Linked DNA regions of Homo sapiens. The protein of the gene in region 4 purifies or fractionates together with the protein of the main gene of each other region. This does not show direct contact. Each region holds a gene or a part of one and is shown on either strand. Other genes may lie near its edges. The genes, in order: TBC1D9B, SEC23IP, FLCN and CTAG2.

Evidence for each region.
Region 1: the proteins of CTAG2 (region 4) and TBC1D9B purify together in Homo sapiens (co-immunoprecipitation; 2 studies listed by BioGRID and IntAct, with this or other methods). This does not show direct contact.
Region 2: the proteins of CTAG2 (region 4) and SEC23IP purify together in Homo sapiens (co-immunoprecipitation; 2 studies listed by BioGRID and IntAct, with this or other methods). This does not show direct contact.
Region 3: the proteins of CTAG2 (region 4) and FLCN purify together in Homo sapiens (co-immunoprecipitation; 2 studies listed by BioGRID and IntAct, with this or other methods). This does not show direct contact.

Annotation. Positions count from the first base shown.
Region 1 is NC_000005.10:179,890,885-179,897,910, forward strand, and holds part of TBC1D9B (TBC1 domain family member 9B), read right to left. Parts: intron 3,731-7,026; coding exon 3,502-3,730; intron 2,584-3,501; coding exon 2,325-2,583; intron 703-2,324; coding exon 495-702; intron 1-494. UniProt on the Homo sapiens protein: May act as a GTPase-activating protein for Rab family protein(s).
Region 2 is NC_000010.11:119,937,719-119,944,744, reverse strand, and holds the end of SEC23IP (SEC23-interacting protein), read right to left. Parts: intron 4,160-7,026; 3' UTR 88-4,159; downstream 1-87. UniProt on the Homo sapiens protein: Plays a role in the organization of endoplasmic reticulum exit sites. Specifically binds to phosphatidylinositol 3-phosphate (PI(3)P), phosphatidylinositol 4-phosphate (PI(4)P) and phosphatidylinositol 5-phosphate (PI(5)P).
Region 3 is NC_000017.11:17,213,149-17,220,174, forward strand, and holds part of FLCN (folliculin), read right to left. Parts: exon of another isoform or gene 6,419-7,026; intron 6,062-6,418; coding exon 5,871-6,061; intron 4,035-5,870; coding exon 3,921-4,034; intron 3,356-3,920; coding exon 3,232-3,355; intron 2,169-3,231; coding exon 2,037-2,168; intron 1,943-2,036; coding exon 1,837-1,942; intron 709-1,836; coding exon 507-708; 3' UTR 1-506. UniProt on the Homo sapiens protein: Multi-functional protein, involved in both the cellular response to amino acid availability and in the regulation of glycolysis.
Region 4 is NC_000023.11:154,651,452-154,657,921, forward strand, and holds CTAG2 (cancer/testis antigen 2), read right to left. Parts: upstream 2,129-6,470; 5' UTR 2,065-2,128; coding exon 1,796-2,064; intron 1,181-1,795; coding exon 1,046-1,180; coding exon of another isoform or gene 817-1,045; coding exon 678-816; 3' UTR 526-677; downstream 1-525.

The DNA.
Region 1 (7,026 bases), on a different chromosome or scaffold from region 4:
GGGGAGAGCCGACGCCGCCCCACAGGGGAGAGCCGACCTCTGATGGCCTGCTGGAGCCGAGCCACGCCAAGGTGGTATGTCCAGAGAGGACTGGTGAGGTGGCCTCTGAGAGTGACATATGGGACCGGTGCAGGAACACGGTCCTCTAAGCGCAGCCACGGAGCAGCACTTTGCCCTGCAGGGCCCAGAAGGCAGGCCTGATGGAAACTCACGCGTGGGAGACCCTGTCTCCACTAGGCAAGTGACCTGAGAGGGCAAGCAGTGTGCCCCCACCATGTTACCTGCCTCCCCAACAGGGCAGGTGCCTGTGGAGGGGCTCACTTGTCCTACACCCTCCACCTGTCCCATCACTGAGTGACATGTGACTGCCTGGGCTAGGGCATCCTCCCAGGTACCCCCCAGTGAGACAGGGCAGAGCAGGACAGGCTGGTCCCTGAGCCCACTGACACCTCGGGGCTGGAAAGGCCTTGGCCTCTCAACTAGGGGATGCTGACCTCCCTCAGGGGTATGATGAGGTGGCAAGCGTCCTCCTCCTTGCTGGCGAAGCAGATGTAGTTGTTGGAGATGAACATCTGGCCAGGGATGTGCAGCTTGTTGAACGGCGTCCACAGGGTGCAGCTTGTGTGGCCGTCTAGCCGCTCATCCCTGGGCAGCCGGAACGTGGCTCGGTAGCACTCATTCTTGGCTCGGGCGTCCAGGTCTCTGGGGAAACAAGGTAGGAGGACAGGAGGAAAGGGGACAAGGTCAGGACCAGCACACTCTCAAGGAAGCCTTGGGGCCTCCCCAGGCCTGTTTCCACATCAGATTCAGGATCCCTGGGGTGGTCCCTTGAGCAAGTCATGCTCAGGGACCTCAGAGTTCAATAAAAGATGCATGCTGAGTGAGCAGGCAGAAGGTGAGACAGTCACATAACCAGCGGAGAAGTGGCCAGCAAGCAATGTGTCCTGAGACTGCTTTGAAAAGGACACACCTAGATGCTGGCCTGGGCAATGTGCAACCCATCCCTCGGTACTGATGGGCAAGCAGAGCCCAGAGCACCTGCCCTGGATCCCACTCAGATGGAGGGCCCCGGGCAGCTCTTCCACCCTGGGCAGGCCTAACCCCAGGTTTCACCTTGAAACCTAGGTGAGGAGCTCCCCACAGGGAGGTGTGGAGCTTAAACTAAAGCATGCGGCTGCTAACAGAAATGCACACCTGTGTATCTGATGGCTGTGACAGTGGCCTGGCCCAGGCCCTCACCCCTTTGGTGGCTCTGTCCACATAAACTCTCCCAGCCCCAAAGGGAGCCTCCTGCCTGCCCTGGGCCGCAGTGGCCTGACCAGGGCCTGACTGCATTCTCACCGGCAGTGCCAGGAGCAGTCATGTTCCATCTCTGCTCGTGTTCTTTCCAAAAGGTCCAACAAGCCAACCTGTCACTTGCATCCCAAGGACAACATGCTTGCACAATTTTCTGGTCCTGGAGGTGGACCCCAGAGTTTGGGCCTGGACCACAGTCTGTGGGTGCAATGCAGGAAATGGCCTGGCTGGAATGAGGTCGCTCAACACAAGGGTGTGAATCTGGCTGTGGTCAGGCTGGCTGTGGGACCCAGGGAACCTCAGAGATCTTGTCCAGCCTCTGGAGTTTCCCATAAGCTACAACCTAGGAACCCAAACGTTAAGTAGCCCGGGAGGGCTGGCTGCTATGATGTGTTCCTGCCTATCGGTCCCCTGGACAGGGCAGCAGGGAACTCAGACCCACACATGGCCCATCTCCTTGGCTGGCTTCAGACCCAGAGGTCTGCTTCCACGTCAAACTCAGGACCCCTGGGGGTCCCATGGCTGTGAGAGGCCTCTGGCCAAGGAGTCTCAGGGTATACAGGAGAGCTGTCAATCACGGTGGGACGGAGGCCGTGCACTTGAGCCCAGATTTACCAAAGCCTTTCTGGGGGTGTCAGAACACCCTGGCTGAGGTGGCTACATCCTGGCTCCACTGCTCACTAACCGAGGGACTTCAGGCAAGTTACTTAACCTCTCTGTGCCTCAGCTTCCTTGTCTGATACCTAGGGATGGTAAGAGCCCCTTCCCATCATAGGGCCAAGAGGAATAAAGTGTGAAGAGCTTCCTCCCCATTAGTGGTATCCTCAGGACATCACTGCTATCTCCTGCTGCCTCTCCACACGGGACTGCAATGATCTGTTTACCTGGCTTCCTTCCCAAGTGGGGAGCCCATGAGGGGTGAATGTGGACACCTTCTCCAGGTCTACACACTTGGACCAGGCAGGTCCCAGCCAAGGTCAGCGAACCTGGCTCACATGAGCCCACCCCAGCCCTGGAGGGCAACGCACCGCTTCAGGGCTGAGATGTTCCTGTGTGGCCGGATGGGCCTAGGCAGGGCCTTGTCCTCCAGGAAGCCCTCGCTGTCCAGCAGCTGCCGCATGGCCAGGTTGGCCAACTGCTCCATGAGCTTGAAGGTCTCGCCGATGTTGAGGAACATGGAGAAGAAGAGCTCCTGGTCGCGGGTGTCCACACGGATGCTCTCGGGGAAGAGCAGGGTGGCGTTCTTCTCCAGACGCGTTATGTCCACCCACTGCACCACGAGGCTCACTGTGCCCACAGAGATAGACACACCGCAAGTTAGGGCCTGGCAGGGCGAGGCTCCTGATGCCCATCTGTACCCCAGACCCATCCCAGGGAACTGCTCTCTGGGGGCAGCACTTCCTGTGTGCCCAGGCCTGTCTGGGCTGTGTCACGCCCTCCATGTGGAGGGACCAGGCCACTGAGGTGTCCACTGCCTTCCAGACCAACCACACACGGTGAGTGTCTCCCCCACCAGTGGCTGAAGGGGAAAGGAACGAACGTGCGGAGGTGAACCACCGAGACCCACCCAGCAGCTCCCCCAAGTGGGAGCGCACGGAGGTGTGAACAGTCACAGCACAGCGCGGCCAACACAGAACAGGACACAGCCCCTGCTGACGGGAGGTGACTGGCCACCTGGTCGTGACAGGTAAGCGGCAAGGGCAGGAGGGGGCACAGGGAGGCTGTGGGCTGAGGGAGGCAAGGAGGGAGGAGGGCTTGGTGGGCTTGGGGATGGCTAAGACCCTGGGGCTCTTTCTGGAGCTGCTGGGAAATCAGGCTCGCATCCTGTGGCCGGGATGTCTGTAGGGAGGAACCTGCAGCAGATGAGGGCTGTGGCACGCACCCAAGGCATTGCATGACATGGAATCACCAGGAATTTGGGACAGACGTGTGCCTGAATACGCCAGTTCAGCAGAAGAGGGCAGGGCAGGCACGCGGAGTCACCATGTAGAGAACCCTACTAGCGAGTGGGGGGCATGGTAAAAGTCGGCTGGGAGCAGGTGTACGCCTGGCCAAGGCCGGACAGTCCCATCTTGGGCCGCTAAGGTGGCATTTGGGTTTCAGGGAGACCCCTCTGGTGGCCATGTGGGGATGGAGTATCTGGGGGCCGAAGGCAGGGAGGGGCTGAGGGTGTGGGGGCTGGGGCACACTGAGGGGCGGGCTCACCTTCCTTCCCCAGCAGGAAGGAGTAGAAGCACAGGTGGTTGACCGTCAGGTACAGCCAGCCCTGCCGGGGCACGCGGCCCTTCCAGTAGCTGCAGGAGTAGTAATTCACCAGCTTCTCGCCCTCAGGCATCCCAAACTGCTTCCGCATCTTCAGCTCAGCCTCCTTGAACTTCCCGGGGTCCTCGTCTCCCTGGGGCTGCAGGTTCTTGTTCTCTTCTGCGATGATTCCCTGGAGGAAGGCAAGAGGACAAGGGCTTGCCCTGCACAGTCCCGGACAGGTCAAAGGGTGGAGCAGAGAGGCCCAGGGAACCCAGGACTCATGGACCTTGGTCTAAGGGCTACAGGCACAGCTGGGAACAGTCAGTGGCTCTTGCTGGCTTGCAGTCAAGGCACATGGATGAGAGACGCTGCCTGTGTGACTCTCTAGACAAAGTTCCTGCAACTCCCGTAACTACTGTCATCACCAGTTGTGAGCAGAGGCTTTTTAAAAAAATTAAGACAGGGTCTCACTCTGTCACCCAAGCTGGAGTGCAGTGGCTCAACCACGGCTCACTGTAGCCTCAACCCAACAGCTGAAGCCATCCTCCTGCCTCAGCCTCCCAAGTAGTTGGGACTATAGGTGTACTCCACCACACCTGGCTAATTTTGTACTTTTTGTAGAAATGGGGTTTTGCCATGTTGCCCAGGCTGGTCTCAAACTCCTGGGCTCAAGTGATCCGCCCGCCTCAGCCTCCCAAAGTGCTGGGATTACAGGTGTGAACCACTGTGTCTGGCCTGACACTTTTAAAATGAATATTTCAGTTATTTTCATGTAAAATTGTTGAAACATTATCCATAAACATGGTAAAAAATGCATACAGTAGAAATGTGTATTCAGTGAAAAGGGAATCTTTTCTCGCTCTCTGTAGTGACTTTCCTGGTTCCTTCCAGACATGCAAACACCAATGGATTCATAAGCAAATGTATGTTTTCCTCTTTCCCCCTTTATTTGCCCAAATGGGATCACCCTGCAGCTCTGTTCTGTAAAGCGCTTCTCTTATCACATCCTGGAGGACGTCCTGCACTTGGCCCCCTGTATGCCAGGGGGCTCCTGCCTCTTGGCCCTGCACACAAACCAGCGGCAGGACCTGCAGTTTCAGGGCCCGTCCATACTCCCTCATGCTGCTGGCATTGTTACAGGGCTCAGGGTGCCCAGAGACATCCCCCTGGGCCACAGAGCCAGCCCCAAGCCTCCTGGGGTAAAACAGGTCCTCAGCAGTGCCCTCAGCTCAAAATGTACACATTGATTTTCTAGAAAGACAATTACAAGATAAACTAGTCAGTCAAGGTCAGTGCTGGTGGCTGGGCCACCCCCGATCCCTCTGTCCATGGGCAGTGAGGACAGCCATGAGCCTAGGTGAGGACTGAAAGGTGGGATCTGTTCTGATTTCTTCTATTTCTGAGTAGCCAGGGAAGGAAACTACAATATGCCATCCCAAAATATGCCCTTTTGACATAAGAAGTATTTTGAGCTGAAGGCAATTAAGTAGCAGCAAACACAGGAAAAGCTCTTTCTGCCCTCCCTCCCCCTTTCTGCCTAAAAGCTGGATATACGTTCTCCTTTATTGGAGACAATTCTAGATTCCTATCAGCCCAGAGATGACACCGCACGCATCTGCAAACAAACCTTACTCCATCGGTTTCATCCCACGTATTTATCTTCTCACAGTTTCCTGCCCTTGGAAGCATAAGCTGTTTTCGTCTGTCCTGTTATTGTTCTTTAAGTGGCCTGTCCCTGTGTTAAGAGGCTGTGTAAACCCAATTCCAACTAAACTTTTGAGTCACCTATCCAAGTTTCTCCCATGAATATATGAGATACACACATTAGTAAACTTCTGTTTTTGTCTTGTTAATCTGCCTTTTGTAACAGAGCCCCAGCCAAGAACCTAAATGGGGAGAAGGAAAAGGGTTTTTCTTCTCTTATACCAGTGCTACCGCAGCTGCGATCTAAACATCTCTCTCCAAAGTGCTGGGATTACAGGTGTGAGCCACCGCGCCTAGCCAAACTGGTGTTCTTTTAAGCCACTAAGTTGATGGTAATTTGTTGCAGAAGCAACTGGAAATTAATAAATGTTATTCTAATAAAGTGCCCATTTTGTCTAAATTCTTTTTTTTTTAGACAGGGTCTCACTCTATTGCCCAGGCTGGAATGCTGTGGCGCAATCTTGGCTCACTGCAACCTCTGCCTCCCGGGTTCAAGCAATTCTTGTGCCTCAGCCTCCCAAATAGGTGGGATTACAGGTGCGCGACACCATGCCCAGCTAATTTTTTATATTTTTAGTAGAGACAAGGTTTTGCCATGTTGGCCAGGCTGGTCTTAAACTCCTGGCCTCAAGTGATCCACCTGCCTTAGCCTCCCAAAGTGCTAGGATTACGGGTGTGAGACACCACGCCCAGCCCCATTTTGTCTAAATTCTTAAAGGTACTGGTTTAAGGCTGTTTTGTCATCCTCTCTCTTTAGAGTTTTGCTTTTTTAAAGATGCTCCTCACAGCGTATTTTGAGACGGAGTCTCGCTCTGTTGCCCAGGCTGGAGGGCAGTGGCATGATCTCGGCTCACTGCAACCTCCGCCTCCCAGGTTCATGCCATTCTCCTGCCTCAGCCTCCCGAGTAGCTGGGACTACAGGCCCCCGCCACCATGCCCGGCTAATTTTTTTGTATTTTTAGTAGAGATGGGGTTTCACTGTGTTAGCCAGGATGGTCTCGATCTCCTGACCTCGTGATCCGCCCGCCTCGGCCTCCAAAAGTGCTGGGATTACAGGCATAAGCCACTGCGCCTGGCCCATCCTTCCTTCTTTTGTAAGACTGAAGGCTTTAAATTTCCTTCTGTGTATTGCTCTCACTGCATCCCACACATCCTGACATGCAGTAGTATTTCAATCATTTTCTTTTCTTTTTTTTTTTTTTGAGATGGAGTCTCGCTCTGTTGCCCAGGCTGGAGTGCAGTGGTGTGATCTCAGCTCACTGCAACCTCTGCCTCCTAAGTCCAAGTGATTCTCCTGCCTCAGTCTTCCATTCCGAGTAGCTGGGACTACAGGCCCATGCCACCACGCCCAGCTACTTTTTAAATATTTTTAGTAGAGACAGGGTTTTGCCATGTTGGCAAAGGATGGCTGGCCTTGATCTCCTGACCTCAAGTGATCCGCCCGTCTTGGCCTCCCAGAGTGCTGGGATTACAGGTGTGAGCCACCACACCTGGCCTCAATTCTAAATATTTTCTAATTTCCATTTCTTCCTTGGCCTATGAGTCATTTGGTTTGTTCTGCTGATGCGTTTGTTGGGCCTGGCATATAGGAGGCAGTGAATAATGTCACAACTACTATTATTATCATCGCCCAATTGCTCACCAGAGTAAAGGCTTGCTTCTGCTCTCTCCACCTGTTTTCCTGGAGATAGAGGTAACCAGGTCTCACCTTGAACCCCAAAGTGCACTGAGAAGAGCTGAGAAAGCTGGTAATGTCTGTCCAGGCTTAGGAAGTTCTGGTAT
Region 2 (7,026 bases), on a different chromosome or scaffold from region 4:
CACTTTCCAATATTCCAAACTGTGCTCCTTTCAACAAGAGTGAATGCTATTAAGCGGCTGCAAAAATAAAAGCACCACTAGAAATGCTTTCTTTAAAAATTGTTTAATGAAAATCACACTCAACACATTCACATAGCTCTCTCTCTGCATTTCGTGCTTAACAACATAATTTCTTCAGTCGCCCCAGTTGTGATGTTCTTTCCAACCTCGCGTCTTTCCACAGGTCTGGAATGCACTGTCCTTTTTCCGTCTTCACCTGGCCACATCTCTTTACCTGTCTTTTAGGTCCCTGACTGTATTAGTCCATTTTCACACTGCTATCAAGGTACTACCTGAGACTGGGCAATTTATAAACAAAAGGGGTTCAAGTGACTCACAGTTCTGCATGGTTGGGGAGACCTCAGGAAACTTACAATCATGACGAACCTCGGGGAACTTACAATTGTGACGAAAGGCAAAGGGGAAGCAGGCACCTTCTTCACAAGGTGGCAGGAGAGAGTGCAGGGAAAACTGCCACTTTTAAAACCATCAGATCTTGTGAGAACTCCCTCACTATCACAAGAACAGCATGGGGAAACAGCCCCCATGATCCAATCACCTCCCACCAGGTCCCTCCCCTGACACGTGGGGATTACAATTCAAGATGAGATTTGGGTGGGGACACAGAGCCAAATCATTATCACTGACACCACCCCTGAAGCTGGGAAAAGGGCACATGGGGATTCACTGTACCATTCTCCATACTTTTGAGTATTTGTGAAAATTCCATAGTAAGGTCTTTTAAAAACCACTCTTTATACAAGAAATGAAAGACAAACATGGTGGGTTATCCCAACCACACCAGTCCCACCTGTCCATGAACCTGAACTGCAGCACATCCACTAACGAATATGTAGCATTGCCCACTATCTCACAGATGTGTCCTCAATAACCCCTGGCCTGTTTTATGTGTCATCATAAAATTTCATATATTGAAATATGTGAAACTCATTTCACTTAATCTGAAGCTGAAAGAAGTATTAAAGAGCTGGAATTATTTCCCAAACTCCCACTGGTGTTAACAACATGACATTATTTTCAGTGTTCTCTGGGACCAATACATTCGGGAAATCTGCAAGAGTTGCTGTTTTATTTTTTATTCATTTATTTTTTTTTGAGACAGAGTCTCGCTCTGTCACTCAGGCTAGAGTGCAGTGGCGAGATCCCAACTCACTGCAACCTCCACCTCCTGGGTTCAAGCAATTCTCCTGCCTCAGCCTCCTGTAGCTGGGACTACAGGCACATGCCACCATGCCCAGCTAATTTTTTTTATTTTTAGTAGAGATGGGGTTAACCCCCTGAGGAGTATTATAGAAATGTCATGAAGACAGGTTAGCTGACAGTCTGTCCCGTGCACCGCAGGGACAGTCAACAGCAGGAACACAATGTCAGCACCCCAGCTCATAGAGGAACTGAATTCTATCCACTCTCCTCTGAGGACCCAGCCCTGGGAAACTGACTCAAACTAAGCTGGAATGCCAACTTATTAAGTTACAATGAGAACTATAACTTGGAGGAAAACCAAAACACTCAGTGTCTGCAGTTCAAGTTTCCACCAGAAAGCTGCTTGGTAAACACTAAAGTACAGCATTAAGATAGTTAGATGCCTCAAGTCATAAAAACCTGAAACAATGGTACTATAAATACCAATCATCCTAGGTTTTCTGGGATAATCTTCAGTACTCTTATCATGAGACCAAATGCTGTGAGTTACTATTTCAAATACATGATCATCCCTGCCAAGATAGCGGCATCTCCTCCTTTTCATGTACAGGGTTCTATATAGATCACACCTTTCCAATAACATACTTACCTCAAAAATCACTCGAATCTGTGCAGTTTCCTTGTCTTATACTGTGGTTTTGAGAAAACATGCTTGTCTGGTTGGATTCAAGAAGCACGCGTGTCCAGCAGACTTAGAAAGCAGGTTCCTCTTGTCATACAGCACGTTAACATAGCTGACGAGGCCTGGGTGTCTTCATCAGTACTGTGATGACTCTTTCACCTTTGACTTCAGATGCTGGCGCTTTTTACTTTTTGTGCCAAACTCTACACATGAAACACTTTTGGAATAACTACAGACATGACTTTCTTTATCTGGGGAAAAGGAGGGCATTAAACCAGATTAGGGGCTGGGAGGGGAGGTTGTCAGGGGATGAGCTGCTCCTGAGGAAGAGGCAGAGATCAAGCTTCACTCAGCAGCTGGATTCTCACCTAGTTTATAGACTGAAATCCTGCAAGGTGGTTACAACAGTGAACAATATGTTCATACATAAAGACTCTACCCTCAGGGGATCTACTGTTTTTTGGTTTTTAAGAGACTGAATAGTAATACATACATACATACATATGTGTGTGTGTATATATATATATGTATGTATGAGTATATATATCCACAGGCAGAGTCACTCAAAAATTCTATTTTCTGTGTACTCAAGTATTAAAATGAAAGGGCAAGACTGCTGCCACTCAGCTGCCACATGCTTCTTCTACGAACCCTGGTCCTTCTCTGCCCATTACTCAGAAGACAGGCTGAATGACACAAACAAAAATCAGATGTAAGTTGAAAAATCAAATTGGATTTTATTGAAATGTATATAAATAACCCTCATTTTTCTTTATTTCATCAGTATTGGGAAATTAAGTGAAAAGTAATTAAAAAGTAGTAGTCCTGAGAGAGAGAAATGAAGGCTGAAAGGGAATCAAGAAAACCATATTCCATCCCAGATCTGCCACTACCCAGTCTGGGAAAGGCATTTATTGTCCTGGCCTCAGCTGTAGAATGAGGTGGCTGAAATCTATGTTGTCTGGAGTCAATTACAGCTCTACAATCTTGCTGTTCTAATTCTACCATTAGGAGCCAATGCTAACGTTACATACTGACCATATAAGCAGGTACTCAAAATGAAAAGGGAATAAACACTGAGTTCATGGGGACACTTTTAAGGAAGACAAGAGAAATACATAAGTTTGCTGCTTAAAAAATGCATTAATGTTACTGCTTTATTCACACTAATTAGAATACATACACAAAAAATGTGTATCATATATCACTTTCAAAAATTTCCATGTTCCATGAGAACTATGTAAACAATGCAAAATGTTTCCACTACGTAACAAAAGAAAATCAGCATTCCCACATAGTATTAGGAAAATATTTGGATAATCTGAATTTATAGTAAAACAAAGTGATCTGAATTTGTAGTAAAACAAAGTGAAATATTACAAAGCAGTCTTGTCATGAAGTAGCCTTATATAACTCAGAAGCAACACATTTCATACTTTCAAACACTTTGGTATAAGTGAAATTAATAGAAAACAAAAAGAAGAAGAAAAAAACCTCTACTTTGGTTTTCACATTATTGGAACTTCAGCAACAAGGCAAGTGCACAGCTACCTTGGATGACAAAATGGAAAACCTCTCATCTGCTTGCTTCTCCTCCTGGAAATGGACGTGCTAGGAGAGCGCTTCCCAGGACTTCTTGAAAATAAGGTGCATCTCACTTCTTTCCACAATCAGGCTCTCAGCAATCGTTTGAGGGATTTATAAAACCTCAGATTCAGTTGGGATATGAGTGATCTTGATTATTTCCTCTTAACAAATATAAATGACCTTGCATTAAGGCAGCTCAGAAGTACAATTCACATTTTAAGTAGAACATAAATCTCTTAAAAATCATATTACTATAGTTTCTCAACAAGTTCATACTTGAATAAAAAGAACATACTGCATTAATAAAAAGAAAAATCCAAGTTTAATAGCCCACTAACAATACTTTTTAAGAAACAGAAATAACCGTTTACATGCTACAAATATTTCTTCATTGATATCACATATAACTTTGACAACTATACAACTAAACTGATCTGTGGAATTTTTCATGGCATCATTTTTATAATTATGTTTTCTCACCTATACTGTCCAAATGTGGTACTGATTTTTTTCACTGTGTTAGTTCTGTGTCCTGTCTTTTGAATCCCTATATCCGAGAATTGTGGCTGAGCAATTGTTAATGAATCACTCTTCTGTCATCCATCACAGGAGCGAAGTGGGAAAGTCCTCTGAGGATTTTCTCAGCAATGGAAGTTGTACTGGGACTTTCTGTGCAGACAAGAAAGTCTTAAAAAGGAAAAAAAAAAAAAACCTCAGTGAACTTTACAAATTTACAGTCAAATACCATGCATCGTTGTCTTTTCTGAAGTAAAAGAACAGACAATCGGCCAGGCACGGTGTCTCACGCCTGTAATCTCAGCACTTTGGGAGGCCGAGGTGGGCAGATCACAAGGTCAGGAAATCGAGACCATCCTGACTAACATGGTGAAACCCCATCTCTACTGAAAATACAAAAAATTAGCTGGGCATGGTGGCGGGTGCCTGTAATCCCAGCTACTCTGGAGGCTGAGGCAGGAGAATGGTGTGAACACGGGAGGCGGAGCTTGCAGTGAGCCAAGATGACGCCACTGCACTCCAGCCTTGGGGACAGGGTGAGACTCCATCTCAAAAAAAAAAAAAAAAAATGGACAATCCAGTGCTCAACTTTACTGACAAACACTGCAAACCGCCTCCAAAGAGCACAGCCTGTAAGCAAGTCCTCAGGCCTTCCAAAGGGACAAGAATGCCCAGGAAACACTCAGTAAGATTAACCAGCATGATTTCTTCATAGCAAAGCCAGTACAGAGAGTAAAAGACACAATTTAAAGTTAGTTATGGCCAAGTGTTGTGGCTCACGCCTGTAATCCCAGCACTGTGGGAGGCCGAGGCAAGTGGATCATCTCAGCTCAGAAGTTCGAGACCAGCCTGGGCAACTTGGGGGAACCCTGTCTCTACCAAAAAATAAAAAAATTAGCCAGACGTGGTGGTGCACACCTGTGGTCCCAGCCTCTCGAGATGCTAAGTTAGGAGGATCGCTTGAGCCTGGGAGTCAGAGGTTGCAGTGAGCCAAGATTGCGCCACTGCACTCACACAAGCTGGGTGACAGAGTGAGACCCCTTCTCAAAAAATTAAAATATTTTATTTTATTTTTTTTCTTTGAGACAGAGTCTCGCCCTGTCGCCCAGGCAGGAGTGCAATGGCACGATCTCAGCTCACTGCACCCTCAGTCTCCCAGGTTCAAAAGATTCTCCTGCCTCAGCCTCCCAAGTAGCTGGGACTACAGGTGTGTGCTACCACGCCCGGCTAATTTTTGTATTTTTAGTAGAGACAAGATTTCACTATTTGGCCAGGCTGGTCTCGAACTCCTGACCTTGTGATCCGCCTTGGCCTCCCAAAGTGCTGGGATTACAGGCATGAGCCACCGTGACCAGCTAAAATATTAATAAAAAATAAAGTTAGTTATCTGCCATGTTAATTTGAGGCTTTTTTATTTTTTATTTAATTATTTATTTTTGAGACAGGGTCTCACTCTATAATCCAGGCTGGAGTGCAGTGGTACGATCACAGCTCACTGCAGCCTCAATCTCCCGAACTCCAGCAATCCTCCCACCTCAGCCTCCCAAGTTGCTGGGACTACAGGTGCACACCATCATGCCCCAGTGATTTTTTTTTTTTTACTTTTAGTAGAGACAAGTAATGTCTTGTCTATGTTGCTAAGCTGGTCTCGAACTCCTGAGCTCAAGCGATCTGCCTGCCTCAGCCTCCAAAGTGCTAAGATTACAGGTGTAAGCCACCACACCTGGCCAATTTGAGGCTTTTCAAAGAACAATCCTAAAAAGGTCTAAAAGGACATGAACATAAAACAACCATTCAGCAAAACTGATCTAAGCTTGAATGAACTATGTATAGAATAATTGTTAACATTTTAAATGGATTATCTTATGACATTAGTATAGTATTAGAAACTTAAATTCTTGCCTAAATTTTACAGCCAAGTGTAAGAAGAAGTAAATAAAACAATTATAGTGAACGAATCATATGTGAAATAGAAGGTTCTGAGTTTTCCATATAAGGTGATGGCAAAATCCTAGAATTACTATTCTTTTGGTTTTGTTTGTCTTGCTTTGTTTTGTTAGGGGAGAGAGCGTCAGGGGAACTTAAATTATTTCGAACTTCATTCGGGATAACTGCAAAGACTATGGTATACTGAGAACTTCTACTGCCAGATATTATGTAAAAAATTACAATTATTAAAACACCATATTTCACCAAATCTAAGACACTGTTGATTGTGACACTTCACTGTTATGTACCATAAAAAGATGCCCAGAAAGGGAGTCTCAAAGGAGAACCCCTCACAAAAAGTGGGGGACTAAACATCTATAGTCTCAATGAGGGATAAAAGCAAGCAACTACATGCAGAAGGGATGGCAAAGAGGCCTGCGCACCTCTTCCTTGACAATGGAAAGAGGGAACAAAAACTCCAATATCTGAACTGACAACCCCATCCCTGCAAATTTTGGGGGCTGAAATCACACTACCAGCATCATCCTAAAAAATCCCAAGCAGAGAAATTAGCTTAAGCAGAGGCAAGTTGGTAAAGCCCCTCCCCCAGTGACCAGCAGAAGAGAATGCACAGCTTCTCAGAAAGAACTCAACTTCCGTTAAGGCAACAGCTGACTTAAATTTTTTTTTTTTTTTTTTTTAAGAGACGAGGTTTCACTATGTTGCCCAGGCTGGTCTCAAACTCCTGGGCTCAAGTAATCCTCCCACAGCGCTGGGATTACAGGTATGAGCCACTGCACCAGCCCCAACAGCAGATTTTAAGATGCATTACAAATTTAAATATGTTAAAATGTGGAAAATAAATGGCTTGAAATCAATGAAGTATCATAGACAAATAAATCACCAGAAGAGATGAGAAAGCCTAGGAAACAAATATTAATTAAAATGTCAAACAACAGCAAAATATTTGGCATATGATAAAAATATCAAACCAATGACAAAAGGGTACATTATTCAATATATGGCACAGACAGAAACGATTATGTAAGAAAAAAGTTAAATTGTTCTCTACACCTTACTCTTCTAAATTACAAAGCCAAATGGGGAAA
Region 3 (7,026 bases), on a different chromosome or scaffold from region 4:
AACTCAATCACTCAGTGACCAAGAGCTGGCAATGTACTGAATATTCACAACTGCAGCAAAAGGTACCCTCAAACATAAGGCCCAGAAACTCTTGCTGAATTTCAAAGTAGAAACGCTTGAATGTTAACCTCGGGAGCAGACATGTTATTGCGACTGCATACTGAGTCGGACCTGTTTCTCCTGCGGGTTTTGAGTCTAAGTCCACAAGGGGCCTGGGAGGCAAGCTGTCCTCCTAGTCGTCTCTCCAAGGAGTTTGAACACAGAGAGAGCCCATCATCCCTCCGCCTTTCATTGCCATCTTCAGCGATTCCAACGGCTGGAGGGAGAGTCTGGGAAGCACACAGGCCCCAAACCTGACAGGGCCGAGCCCAGCCCTGATGGTTTCCCTTCCTTGCTGGGACACAGCTCCTTCCAGCAGTTGAGAAACTCAAGGGACAGTCCCTCTCACGGGGCTGGAGGATCCTGTGGACAGCCATCCCTGTCTTTAGGCAGGTGTGTGTGACGGGTCAGTTCCGAGACTCCGAGGCTGTGGGGCTGCGGACCGTGGACATGAGGTGTGACTTGTAGGTCTTGCTCAGGCCAGTCATCCAGAACTTCAGCAGCTTGACATTGTCCTCCTCGGACGCACCCAGGATGCTCAGCAGCTTCTGTGTGTCCTCTTTGGGTCGACTGTCCACCTTGGTGAACTTAAAAAGCACCTTCACTTTGCTGAAGAAAACCAAAACAAAACACTCAGACACCACAGCACAATCCCTCGAGCCCTGGTCACGGGGCCAACCAGGGGTGACACGGCTTTGGCACCAGCAGGAGCTGTGCAGGCAGAGCTGGAATCCACACCCTTGGGGCAGCAGGCTTGGCCCCTGAACTGCTGAAAGGAGCTGTGTCCCAGCAAGGAAGGGAAGCTGTCGGGGCTGGGCTCGGCCCTCTGTCGGGTATGGGTATGGGGCCTGTGCGCTTCCCACACCCTCCCTCAAGCTGTTGTCAAGACGCCAAGAAGAAAGAAAAACCTTCCTTAAACTCGTGGAAGACACTGGTTGCTCCTAAGCTTCACTGCATGATTTTAAATCAGGACAATGTTTGATTAATAAATTTGACCCAAAAAATTACCAAGAATCGAGGCAGGAGGAAATAAAGTAAATTTGCTTACAAAAAAAAAAACCCGGGGGGCCAGGTGCAGTGGCTCACGCCTGTAATCCCAGCACTTTGGGAGGCCAAGGTGGGCGGATCACGAAGTCAGGAGTTCAAGACCAGCCTGGCCAACATGCTAAAACCCTGTCTCTACTAAAAATACAAATATTAGCCAGGCATGGTGGTGGGTGCCTGTAATCCCAGCTACTCCAGAGGCTGAGGCAGAAGAATCGCTTGAACCCGGGAGGCGGAGGTTGTGGTGAGCCAAGATCATGCCATTGCACTCCAGCCTGGGCAACAAGAGCCAAACTCTGACTCAAAAAAAATAAAAAATAAAAATAAAATAAAATAAAAAGCGGGGTGGGGCATGGGTTACTGGGCTTTTAGGTTTTGAAGTTAATTGCACAGCAGATGACAGAGCTTCCATTATGAACCCTCCTGTGAGCTTGGAGCCCTTGCCCAAGCCTCAGTCGCTCTCCAAGGCAGGCGCCACCCCCACCTCCCCATGCAGGAGCCGGAGGCAGACATGATGACCGCCTCCCGAGGCCACCTGAGCTTTGCAGTGGCGGACGTGGAGTTGGAACCCCGCCCCCAACCTCTTCTCTCGGCTCCTCCCTCAGTGGCCACGGCCCAGCTCCTCTTTTGGAAACAGCTCCAGGTTTTCTCCAGGGTCGCAAGCAAAGGGGCCTCACCCACACTGTTGCTTACTTCATCCACTCCTCCTTGAGGCAGACGAGGCACTGGTCCACCACATCCACAGACAGGTTCTGGTTGGTCAGAGCCGCTTCAATCTTATTCAGGATGGTGGGGCCCACTGGGGAGAAGGGCAGGGGCAGAGCAAGGGCAGGCGTTAGCGCGGGGCGGGGGCATCTTCTCACAAAAAGGACACTCTGCCTGGGGGCACCCACCTCGGTCTGCAGCTACAGGGCTCCCACTGGTCACCACAAACTCGTACTTGCTGAGAGACTGGTCATCCTCACACCCCACAGGGTGGAGGGTGGAACGTGCGGCTGCGTGGACCTCCACGATGACAGCAAACTCTGTAACAACACAAGGCCCGTGGCTCCTCATCTCCCCCATGCTCCTCACCTCCCCTGCGCTAGCCCACCGTGGGCCCCACTCCGCTCATCCCAGGTCAGTGGGGAAGGCTGCTGGTGAAAAGACTGGCCCAAATCAATGCTTTGGTATTTAAAACCTTTCAGGTTATTCGTGAATAGTTAAGGGTTAACTTTTGCCTCAGTTAAACTAATAATTTATTATATTACAATAATCACAAAGTACTTTATATACATCAATTTACCTCTGGCTAAGCAGCCCTATGAGGGTGGTCTCACCATGACCCTATTCTACAGATGGGGAAACAGGCCTGGAGACGTTAAATAACCTGCTCGTAGTGGTAAGAATTTGAAGTCTGTTTGAAACCAGAGCCTGTGTTTCCAATGCTACCCGGAAAAAAGGCACTGCCTCGCAGGGAGTCAGGACCCAGCCTGGGTGCTGATTGGGGGCTCAGGGTAGCTCCACTCGGACCATGAGTCAGCAGCTGCTGGTCACCGCTGTGCTGGGGGAAGTCACTGATGAGCCTGGGGGGCTGATCCCTGGACATCCCCAAACCAAAAGACCAGGGGTTTGCTGAGCCCTGACCACACCAGTGAAGGCCGGGAAGACCTCGGGCACATGAGGTGAAGAAAAAGGCTGGAGGAGAGCAGAAGTCAGGACAGGGGAACAGTAGAAGAGTGAGGAGAGGATGGCAGGGCCCACAGAAGCAGGCAGCTCACACCCAGCATTCAGCAGGCCTCCATCTCATAGGCACCCAATCACCAGGACGACCAGGATCCTCCGGCCAGGGACACATCCTCCCACCCCACGATGGTGACCTGCAGCCCACTGACGACAGTCCCTGCCAGCCAACCTTCCCATCAGGTCCACTCACCCACCGCTACCTGTGTGAAGATAGAACACGGAGGCCCAGAGCCATGGGGGAAGCTGGCCCTGCAATGAGGCCTCCTCTCCACAACCCATGACAGAGATCTGGTTCCACTTTGGGCCTGAGGCGTGGGGAACCTCAGCGCAGGGCATGGCCCCACAGCCCGCGGGGGCACGCACCTGAGGAGAGCACGTGGGGGGGGATCTGCACGTGCGGGCTGAGCCCCAGGAAGTTGCACCGATAGGCCTCCTCGTACTGGCTGCTGTATGGGATGATGCGGACGCAGCCCACGGGAAGCATGGTCTGAGGAGGACAGCAGGACTCAGACCAAGGACACGAGGAAGCCCTCAGCCCCGGCCATCCATGCTCTACTACCCAAACCCCACACGCCTCCTGCAGCCCGGTCCAAGCCCTCCCTCCTGCCAGAGGAGTCCCCAGACTCTCAGCCCACAGTGGGGGTGAGGGGGGAGGGTCCTCCACCACCAGGTCCCTAACTCTTGTCTGGACCGCCAGTCACACACCAGCTTGTACCGCCCCTCGCTCTGTGGTGTTAACTCATATTAATGTTTGCCTGCACAGATGTTTGTCTCCTACCGCATCCCACAAAGAAGCTTTTACCAAGACTGTGTCATATGCATTTTTGTTCCCTCTCAGGCCTGGGCAGTCAGCAGGCACACGCATCCTTCTGATGATTTAAACATCATCAGACCAGACCCGGGTCTCCGTGCCCACTGCGCCCCCAGTGGAGACCGTGTGGTGCACAGCGGTTCTGTGCTGGGCAGTCGGTGCACCTTGGCATCCCCACCTGACGCCAGGCACCAGGCCAATACTGCCCTGCGCCGCACACCTAAGGAAAAGATGTTCTCACCCGAAGTACTTCAAAAGCTGACTGGACGAGGTCCACGTCTCTGCTTTTCCAGATCACCTGGTTCCCCATGAGAACGTGCCAGGCCAGCATGCGGAAAGAAGGGGCACCCAGGACCTAAACAAGAGAGTGCAGTGCTTTCAGCGTGACTAGTAGAAATGGTTTTTCTCTCCCTTCCCATGAAGTTATTTGTGTGTTCATAAAACTTTGTAGAGCAAAGACAGGGCTCAGGAGAAAGACACTTATCTTCTCAGGGAGGCGGGTGCCCGGCCCAGGGTTAAAGGGGCAGAGAGAGAAGTTCCAGGTTTGCACATAAATGCTAGATTCCAAAGCTCTTGCTCCAAGATCTTTCTCCCAGTTTTGTTTTTAAAAATTTGAAGCAAAAAGATGTTAACTTTGTGCAATATTCACCTTCTCTCTACAGACACTTTCTGCTGAACCATTTGAAAGCAAGCTGTAGGGCCCTCGACATGGCAGCACCCAGGAGAATAAGGGCATCTCCACAGCTGAGACCATGACTGCAGCCAGGAGTGCCTGGACGGACGCATCTGACATCCAGCCGTGTGCACAAGCCCAGGGCTGCTGCCTGCTTGACGGCTGCTGTTCTTTGGATCCAGGAGATACTACAGGACCCATCATGGCTTTTAGTTGTCACGTCCTTATTCTTTAACCTAGAACAGCCTCTCCCCACACCCCACCTGTTATTAACTTCCATGACATTGACACCTTAGGAGAGTCCAGCCTGCTGTCTCACGGCTTCTAAGAAGCCAAACCCAGCTTTGAAACACAACATAAGAGAGAGGCCACAATACTATGTCTCACCAAACCCCAACAGCCTCAAAGTAGTCCCACCTCCAGAGGAATTCCAGACCCCTTCCAACCTTCATCAACATAAGCAACGGACAAGGAAGGTTTCAGCCAAATGCAGGATTTTGATGGAATGGGTGTTTACATCCAGAAGCCCCAAGGACATCTGCCATGAAATCAGTCTCACTCCATTTTCAAAAACAAATAACTCTCTTCTAATGAATCAGTGCTCATTGGAAAAATTCATGCAGAAGAATTTTATAAGAAGGCAGCCTGCCCTTGTAATCCAGCAACCCACACCCCTCTCTCCCGGCATCTGACTCGATGTAACTGGAGACAACACTGTTAGATTTTGTCGTGTCTGGCAGGCACACATGTACATACATCACCCTGAACACACAGTGCCTGCTTTATTTCTTCTAATTAATCATATTCCATGGTTTGGCTACTGTTTACTAGTATGGTTTGATATGCAAGTTGTTCCTAATTTTTTGTAAGAATGACCATCACTTTCTTTTTTTTTTTTTTTTTGAGATGGAGTCTCGCTCTGTCACCAGTCTGGAGTGCAGTGGTGCCATCTTGGCTCACTGTTAACCTCCACCTCCCAGGTTCAAGCGATTCTCCTGCCTCAGCCTCCAAGTAGCTGGGACTACAGGCACATGCCACCATGCCCAGCTAATTTTTGTATTAATAGAGATGGGGTTTCACCATGTTGGCCAGGCTGGTCTCGAACTCCTGACCTCGTGATCCGCTCCCCCTTGGCCTCCCAAAGTGCTGGGATTACAGGTGAGAGCCACCACGCCCAGCCAGACCATCACTTACAATGGGCAGGGTCCAGGCTGCATCCAAACCAATTACAGTGCTGTTCAATGCCTTTAGGAGCTTCTTAGAGGATTAGAGGACCATGGGATGCCAACTATCTGGGCTTTTCTTTGAAGATACTTAGGTCATCACTGAAAGGGGAGCACTGATCCTATGGCTAATACCCCCAACGCCCTGTGCCCTCAGCCACCCACCGAGGAGGCTGTCAGTCACTTCCTGCAGGGTTTTGAAGGTGGAGGGTCCAGAGGCAAGGCGTGTGGGCAGGGACAGCCCATGACTGGCTCTCCTCCTGAGCTCCTGATGCGCTGTGCCCCTGCCGCCTACCTGCCTCATGTGCCGGAGGGACTTGAAGACTGGCAGCTTCCGGGGCTGCCAGCTCCCACAGCCTGAGAGAGAGGAGGACTCTGCCGGGCCCTGGGTCAGCTCCCGCCCTTCTGTACTCTCTGGCAACACAGGGGCTTTCTCCTCCTCTTCAGCCTCAGAGTTGTCCCAGCTTTCTGATTCCTCTTCTAAATCTGCAAGACAGATGACAAGGACAGTTACAGATACAAACAGTCTCATCCTGTGACTTCAGCCCAAGATACTTCATGGGCTGAGCCGGTCAGTGTAGATTCCTGGCTGCGGCCAGGTCCTATGCTCCCTGCTCCCTGTTGCTCTGGGAGCCCTGGGGTGGGAGGGAGGGCTCAGTTGCTGTCTACTTAGCCCGGGGTACCACACATCTCTCTTAGAAGCACTTATGGAAAGACCGTCAGCTGTTCTCTGCTGGTGAGAAAACTCAAATCAGTAAGAAAAATGCCAACAGCGTGTCTACGGAACACACCCAGTCGGCCACAGTTCTCGAGGATCTACACGTTGTTTCTTTTTTTTCCACTTTTTTTTTTTTTTTTTTTTTTGAGACGGAGTCTCACTCTGTCGCACAGGCTGGAGTGCAGTGGCGCAATCTCGGCTCACTGCAACCTCCGCCTCCTGGGTTCAAGCGATTCTTCTGCCCCAGCCTCCCAAGTAGCTGGGACTACAGGCACCTGCCACCATGTCCGGCTAACTTTTTTTGGTATTTTTAGTAGAGACGGGGTTTCACCGTTATCTGCCAGGCTGGTCTCAAACTCCTGACCTCATGATCCCCCGACCTCGGCCTCCCGGTCCACTTTTGTTTTAGCTTGAGGGCGTACGTGTGCGGCTTTGTTACAAGGGTATGCTGCGTGGTGCTAAAGTTTGGGCTTCTATGAATCCTGTCACCCAGACAGTGAACCACAGGAAGTAATATGCCCAGATAGTATCCAATAGAAAGCATTTCAGCCCTTCCTCCCCTTCCTCCCTCCCTCCCTCCTTCTGGAGCCCCCAGTGTCTACTATTCCCATCTTTTTTATTTGAGACAGTGTCTCGCTCTGTTGCCCAGGCTGGAATGCAGTGGCACGATCACGGCTTACTGCAGCCTCAATCTTCTGGGCTCAAGTGATCCTCCCAACGAAGCCTTCCAAGT
Region 4 (6,470 bases):
TGATTCTTATAGAGATAGAATCTCACTACATTGCCCAGGGTGGCCTCCAACTGCAGGTCTCAAGCCATCCTCCCACCTGAGCCTCCCAGAACAATGGGAATACAGGTGTGGGCCACCATGCCCGGCCCATATCACATGTTTAACAGTGAAATAATGCTGGTTTTATGCATCTATTCAAGTACATGTTTTTGAAGCATTTTTAGAAAGCACAAAAGCTCATATGTTCAATGAAAACAATTTGGGAAAAAATTTAATGCTGACCTGGAAAAACATTATATATGCTACTGTCATATATTTAACATATAAATGCAAGTATATTGAGGAAAATATTCTAAAATGTCCACAGTAGTTAATGCTGAATGGCGGGACCCAGTGGCTTTTCATTTTCCCCCATTTCCCAAATTGCCTCCCGTTACCTTGTGCTACTTCAATCTGTGAATCCCAGAGCCTCCCCTACAACCCGAGGACAAGGGCATGCAAGTCCGAAGGTGCCTTCGCTCGCCGAAAAGAGACTCAGACACGGAATCGTAGCTCAGCTTTATTTTCTACAGAAACAAACATGTAAGCCGTCCTCCTCCAGCGACAAACAATCAGGCCCCCACAATGAACTGGCCACTCGTGCTGGGACCATTCCCTAGGGGAGGAGGCATGACCTAGGAAGGGGCGCCAGGCTGGGCTTAGCGCCTCTGCCCTGAGGGAGCCTGAGCCAAAAACACGGGCAGAAAGCACTGCGTGATCCACATCAACAGGGAAAGCTGCTGGAGACAGGAGCTGATGGAGAGCTGCAGTTGGCGGTGGTCTGCAGCAGTCAGTCGGCTAAATGTGAGGGGCAGAGAACATCACATTAAAGGCGACACCTCTGCACCCATCTCCCTGGGCTCCCTCGGGTGGCGGCGGGCCTGGTGTACCAGGTCTCTGTTCTGAGACCTTGTGTTTGGGTGTTCTGAGATCTCTAGCTTTCTGCCCCTCCGGGGAGGCGGATCCCAGCCCCCAACCCACCACCCTCATCCGCCCAGCGCCTTCCCTGTCCTGGTCCCGAACTGACATAAACAGTAGGTTGCCGGACACGGTGAAGTCCTTCAGAACCGCCCCTGGTCGGGGGAGCGGTGCGGCATCCCGGGACAGGATCCTGCGGACCAGCTCCGCTTCCATGGGCGACGAGAAAGGCATCGTGATGTGCCTGGTGGGGACCCAGTTAAGGTGCCATCTCCTAGGATTTGGCCGGTGCCCATCTCATCCCCTCAGGCTGTCTCCCCACGCACTGGCCCAGGTCCTGCAGCAACCCCACCCAGCTGTCTTGATTCCCCACTTTCCTCTGTTGCACCTCAAGCTGACTCCTGCGTGCCCTTCCAAGGCCCTCCCCACCATGCCCCCTGCCGCATCAGCCGGGACCTCTCCCCATCGCTTGACACCACCCCCATCCAGCCCACACCCCAGCCACCGGCTCCCACCTTGCACGCTTCCCCCCAACTCCTGATCCCTTCACACACCCAAGAACCCCTGTCTCCTGTCCCCCTGCCCCTCACCCCATCGCCCAGCACCCAACTGTGCACACGCTCCACCTCCCATCCCCTACCTACTCCCTTCCTCTGAGCCACCCCTCGACCTCCAACTCCCAGCCCCCACCCCCACCCCACCCGGCGCCTTACCCCCATCTCCCAAACCCCACCTTCCGCACCTGGCCCTGCCCTCACCCACCTCCTGGCCCTGCCCCCCACCTCTTGACCCTGTTGTCTCCGTCTCACGGCCCCCACCTCGCCACCAGAACCTCCTAGAACAGAACAGAACAGGATACAACTCAAGCAGGCGGCTGTCCGGCCTCCTGGCCCCGCAGGGGCACCTTCCATCCTGCGCAGAAGCGGCACCGCCATGCGGACCCCGCGGGGCGCCTCCTCTCGGCCCCGAGGCCCTTGCTGCCCCTGCGCCCCGGGGACCTCTGCCGCCCGTGGCACCCGCCTCTCCTGGGCCGCCAGCATTGCCCCCTGGGCCATCAGGAATGCCAGGGCCTCCTGGGCCATCAGCATCGCCCGTCGAACCCCCTGTGCCCCGGCCTTCGGCCTGCATGGCTCCGGAGCCTCTGCCCGGCTCTCAGAGAGAAGGTCAGGGCCCACGAGGATGCGGAGGCAGAGAGGCTGCAGGAAGTTCCGCCCCCTGGCGTGAGATGGGCAGCCCGGGATCCTCAGGGCGCCTGCGCACAGGGGCCCTACTTCCGGCCCTGGGAGACCCCGAGTGAGCCCCGGAGCACGTGACCGGTTCTCACCAACCCCGCCCCTCCCCAAGAGAGCCCGGGCCGGAAGGTGGCCGCAATGCCAGCTTGGACCCCTCACCCCTGAGCAGCCGGCTGTCCGCCGGACCCCTGTCCCGGGAGCCCTGCAGGGAGTCAGGCACTGCGGGGCCCAGCCTGTCCCATCCCCCGGGTCTCCCTCACATCGAGGAGCAAGACGGGCCTGGGAACACGGGGCCGGGACTGTGCGGCCATCGTCCCGGACCCTGTCTGCCCTGTCCGTCCTTGGGGGAGCGCCCAGGACAGACCCCGGGGGGCAGGCCTCTAACTGGGCTCAGCAGCCTCCGTCCCTGTCCTGGTCGCCCAGCTGGTGGGGTAGCTGGAACTGCATGTCTGGTGGGCGTGGCCTCGCGCCAGCCAAGGTCTCCCAGGCGCCAGGTCCAGCCAAGGTGGACGGGAGGGCCCAGCGGGACCCGGGGCCGGATCTCACTCCTGGGTTCAACGGGTTCTGTCCCTGTCCTAGTCGCCCCGCCTGGTGGGGGAGCTGGAGCTGCGTGTGGGGTGGGTTGCGGGTGGCCTCCCACCAGCCAGGGGCTCCCGGGCTCTAGGCCTGGCCCAGGTGGACAGGCGGGACCTGCTGGACCTGAGGCTGGGTCGGGCCTGGCTCCTGGGTTCGGCAGTATCAGTCCCTGCCCTGGTCGCTCTTGCCTGGTAGGGAGCTGGGAGGTGACCCTGTGTCTGCTGGGTGCTGGCTTACTTCTGTGTCTGGAAGGGGGTCAGATCCACAGGAAAGGTGCTGCGAGAGGCGGGCAGGGGTGGGGGTGGCATGGCCCTAGGAGCTGGGTGTCTGTCCCCACGCCCTGTTCACAAGTCTGTGGGGCGAGAGGCTGCAATACTCCATCCCGGGTGTCTGGGCTGCTCACCAGGCCGGCTCAGGCTTCCCACATCCTGTACCCTGGGTTGGGCATGAAACCGATCCAATCGTCCCATAGGCTGTTCTTTTTGATACACATAGAAACTGACCCTTCTGGTCTTCAAGCTTGAACCTTACAGTTGTTTTATCTGAATTCCTTCCTCAGGAAATGACCTTCGGGCCTCTCAAAATATCAAAGAACTGAAACTCACCAGATAACCACATCCAGACAATGAGATGCTGGACCCCCCAAATTCATCAGGATTGCTTTCTGGGCCCTCCCGAGTTCCTGTTTTCCTACACATTGGTGCATTTCTTCCTGGCTATATAAACCCCTAGTTTTAGTCAGGGGGATGGATTTGAGACTTAACTCCCATCTCCCCGGCTGCAGCACCCAATTAAAGCCGTCTTCCCTGGTAATGCTCTTCGTCTCAGTCAGTCATTGGCTTTCTGTGCGGCCAGCAGCAGGACGTAGACCAAACCCTTGGTATTTCGGTAACAGGCACACCCCCAGGAAGGGACCCCGGACACGGCTACCACCTCTAGGCTTAAAGCGAATGCACTTCCCGCATCTCCAGTCTTCCGTGTAGCAGCTTTAACCTATGTATGTCTGTGCCACATCCAGTCCTCAGACGGCTGAGTGACCCCAAGAAAGGCTTCCCCGACACCCAGACAGAGGCTGCAGGGCTGGGGCTGGGTGAGGGTGGCGGGCCTGCGGGGACATTCTACTGTGCTAAAAAGCCACTGCAGACATAGCAATAAAAACATGTCATTTTCCAAAGCAGGCTCCTGCTTCTGCCTCTGCTGCTCTAAGAAGGGGTCAGGGTGCAGGAGGCAGGGGGAACCTCCTCCAGCTGGAGCTGCTGCGGTGAGCAAGGCTCTGCTCTGGAGGCCTCTGAGGCTGGCACCCTTCTGGGGACTGGGAAGGGGGCAGGGAAGGCAGCAGCCCAGGGAAAGCCTCGTCCCCCTGGAGCCGAGGCAGTTGGGGAGAGCAGGACGAGAGTGAGCTGGAGAGCAGCCACACCGATGGGTAAGGGTGGGTGAAGGGATTCCACAGGTGTCTAGAAAACTGGAAAGAGCTCCTTAGCAGGTCCAGGCCCCAGGTGTAGGGGAGGACCAGATGTGGAGGATGAAGACGGTTGTCCAGAGGGATCTCCAGGCGTTGGCATTATTGGGTCCTACTGAGATGCTGTCAAGGAGAAAACACAGGCTGTGTGTGGCAGGGCGACAAATGAGTGCTGCTGCCAAGCTCTGTCCTGTTTTCTGTGCACGTCTCAGAGCCCCTCCAGTGACCGTCATCTCCGGCCTCCTCCTGCGCCTCTGTGTTCGTAGACATCTTCTCACATCTCAGATCCTGCTGAGCCTCTGGGCCCCCTGCACGTGCCTTCTGCCTCTCGGCTGCTGGGGTGGGGACCTCTGTGCCCTGTGCCAGCGCCTCTCCTGCAGCTCACAACACATCTGCTTTTTCTCCTGCGCCCTGCACAGGGTGGGCCTGGAAGCTCTGGGGAAGTTGTACCCTTGGACACAGCCCCCCACCGATGGGGCCAAGAGTCACTGGATAAAAGTCTTAGTCTCTCACCCTTTGAAGGACAACTCTGAGGTGCGGCTGACTGTGGAGCGAATGAAATGAAACGGATGCACGGGGATGGGTGTGGACAAAGGAATGCCGACTTCTCAGGCTGCCGATACATATCTCAGTAGAAGCACGGGGGAATGCTATATAGAGAAATATTTCTATAGTATCTGAAGTGTTTAGAATGTATTGACCTAATATATACACAATAAAAGTAAAAACATTGGAAGAAAATTTAGATGAACTTTATTTGATTGTTGGAATGGAAAAGACTTTTCTCTCTTTCTTTCTTTCTTTCTCTCCTTTTCTTTCTTTCTTTCTTTTCTTTCCTTTTTTTCATTATTATACCTTAAGTGCTGGGGTACATGTGCACAACGTGCAGGTTTGTTACATAGGTATACATGTGCCATGCTGGTTTGCTGCACCCATCAACTTGTTGACCTAGCAATCCCATTACTGGGTATATACCCAAAGGATTGTAAATCATTCTACTATAAAGACACATGCACATGTATGTTTATTGCAGCACTCTTCACAATAGCAAAGACTTGGAACCAACCCAAATGCCCATCAATGTTAGACTGGATTTTAAAACTGTGGCACATATACACCATGAAATATATGCAGCCATGAAAGAGAATGAGTTCATGTCGTTTGCAGAGACATGGATGAAGCTGGAAACCATCATTTTCAGCAAATTAACACAGGAACAGAAAACCAAACACCGCATGTTCTCACTCGTAAGTGGGAGTTGAACAATGTGGACACAGGGAGGGGAACATCACACACCGGGGCCTGTTGGGGGTGGGGGGCTGGGGGAGGGATAGCATTGGAAAAGACTTTTCTAAGCCTACTAGCAATGAGAATAATAATAACCAATAACATTTGTTGGGTGGTCACCATGTCCCAAGCCACTGTTGTAAGCACTAGACAAGAATTGGCTCATTTATCCAGAAATACACCACATTTTCATTGTCGTTATCCTTGGCGGTGAGATAACGGTTGGTTTTTTATTTTCTCTTCCGAACTTGCCCATATTTCCTCTTCTTTTGCAGTGAACATGTATTACATTTATAAGCAGAAAGCGATTAAGAAAGTTATTCATTACTTGCTGTTGAGGAAAATTTCTAATTAGCTCTGGAGTGAGCCAGTTTGCCAAAGTTTAAATTAGCCTGTTCAATTCATTGGAGGCCATATTTTTCCTCTGAAACTTGTTCTAATTGGCACCTTTTCTTGATGTAATGAGGCGGACGGTGCCGTGATGAAGTCTCTGAAGTCACCGAGCCTCGGGGCCCACGCTAGACACCACGGGGCAGATGTCGCCCGGCTCTCCTGGTCATCTCTGTGGCTTTCAGCCGCTTCCAAAAAACAATTGTTTCCAAATTCCACACACACAGTTCATCCTACCTTGAAAGTTATTCCTCCAGAGGGCTGTTGATAGTTTGCTTCATCAGCATTTTGTCACTATTACACACTGAGATTTTTTTTTTCTTCTGCACCTTGGAGGTACTCATGAAGAACACATGTGTGCTTAAACACAAAACCTACCGAGGCCCATAACAGCCCCTCCCCTCCAGAGGGCCGGTCCTGGTCCACACACGCTGGCAGACAGTCTTTGTGTTTCCGAATCAGAGAAGACTTGCTTGGAATGGATGAAATGTATTTGAAATCACATTAGGCATCATCTGGAATGGTGAAGCTTCAGAGGTGACAGGGCCAGGATGTCTATATTCAAAGAGGGCCATTGAATTAAAGTTAAG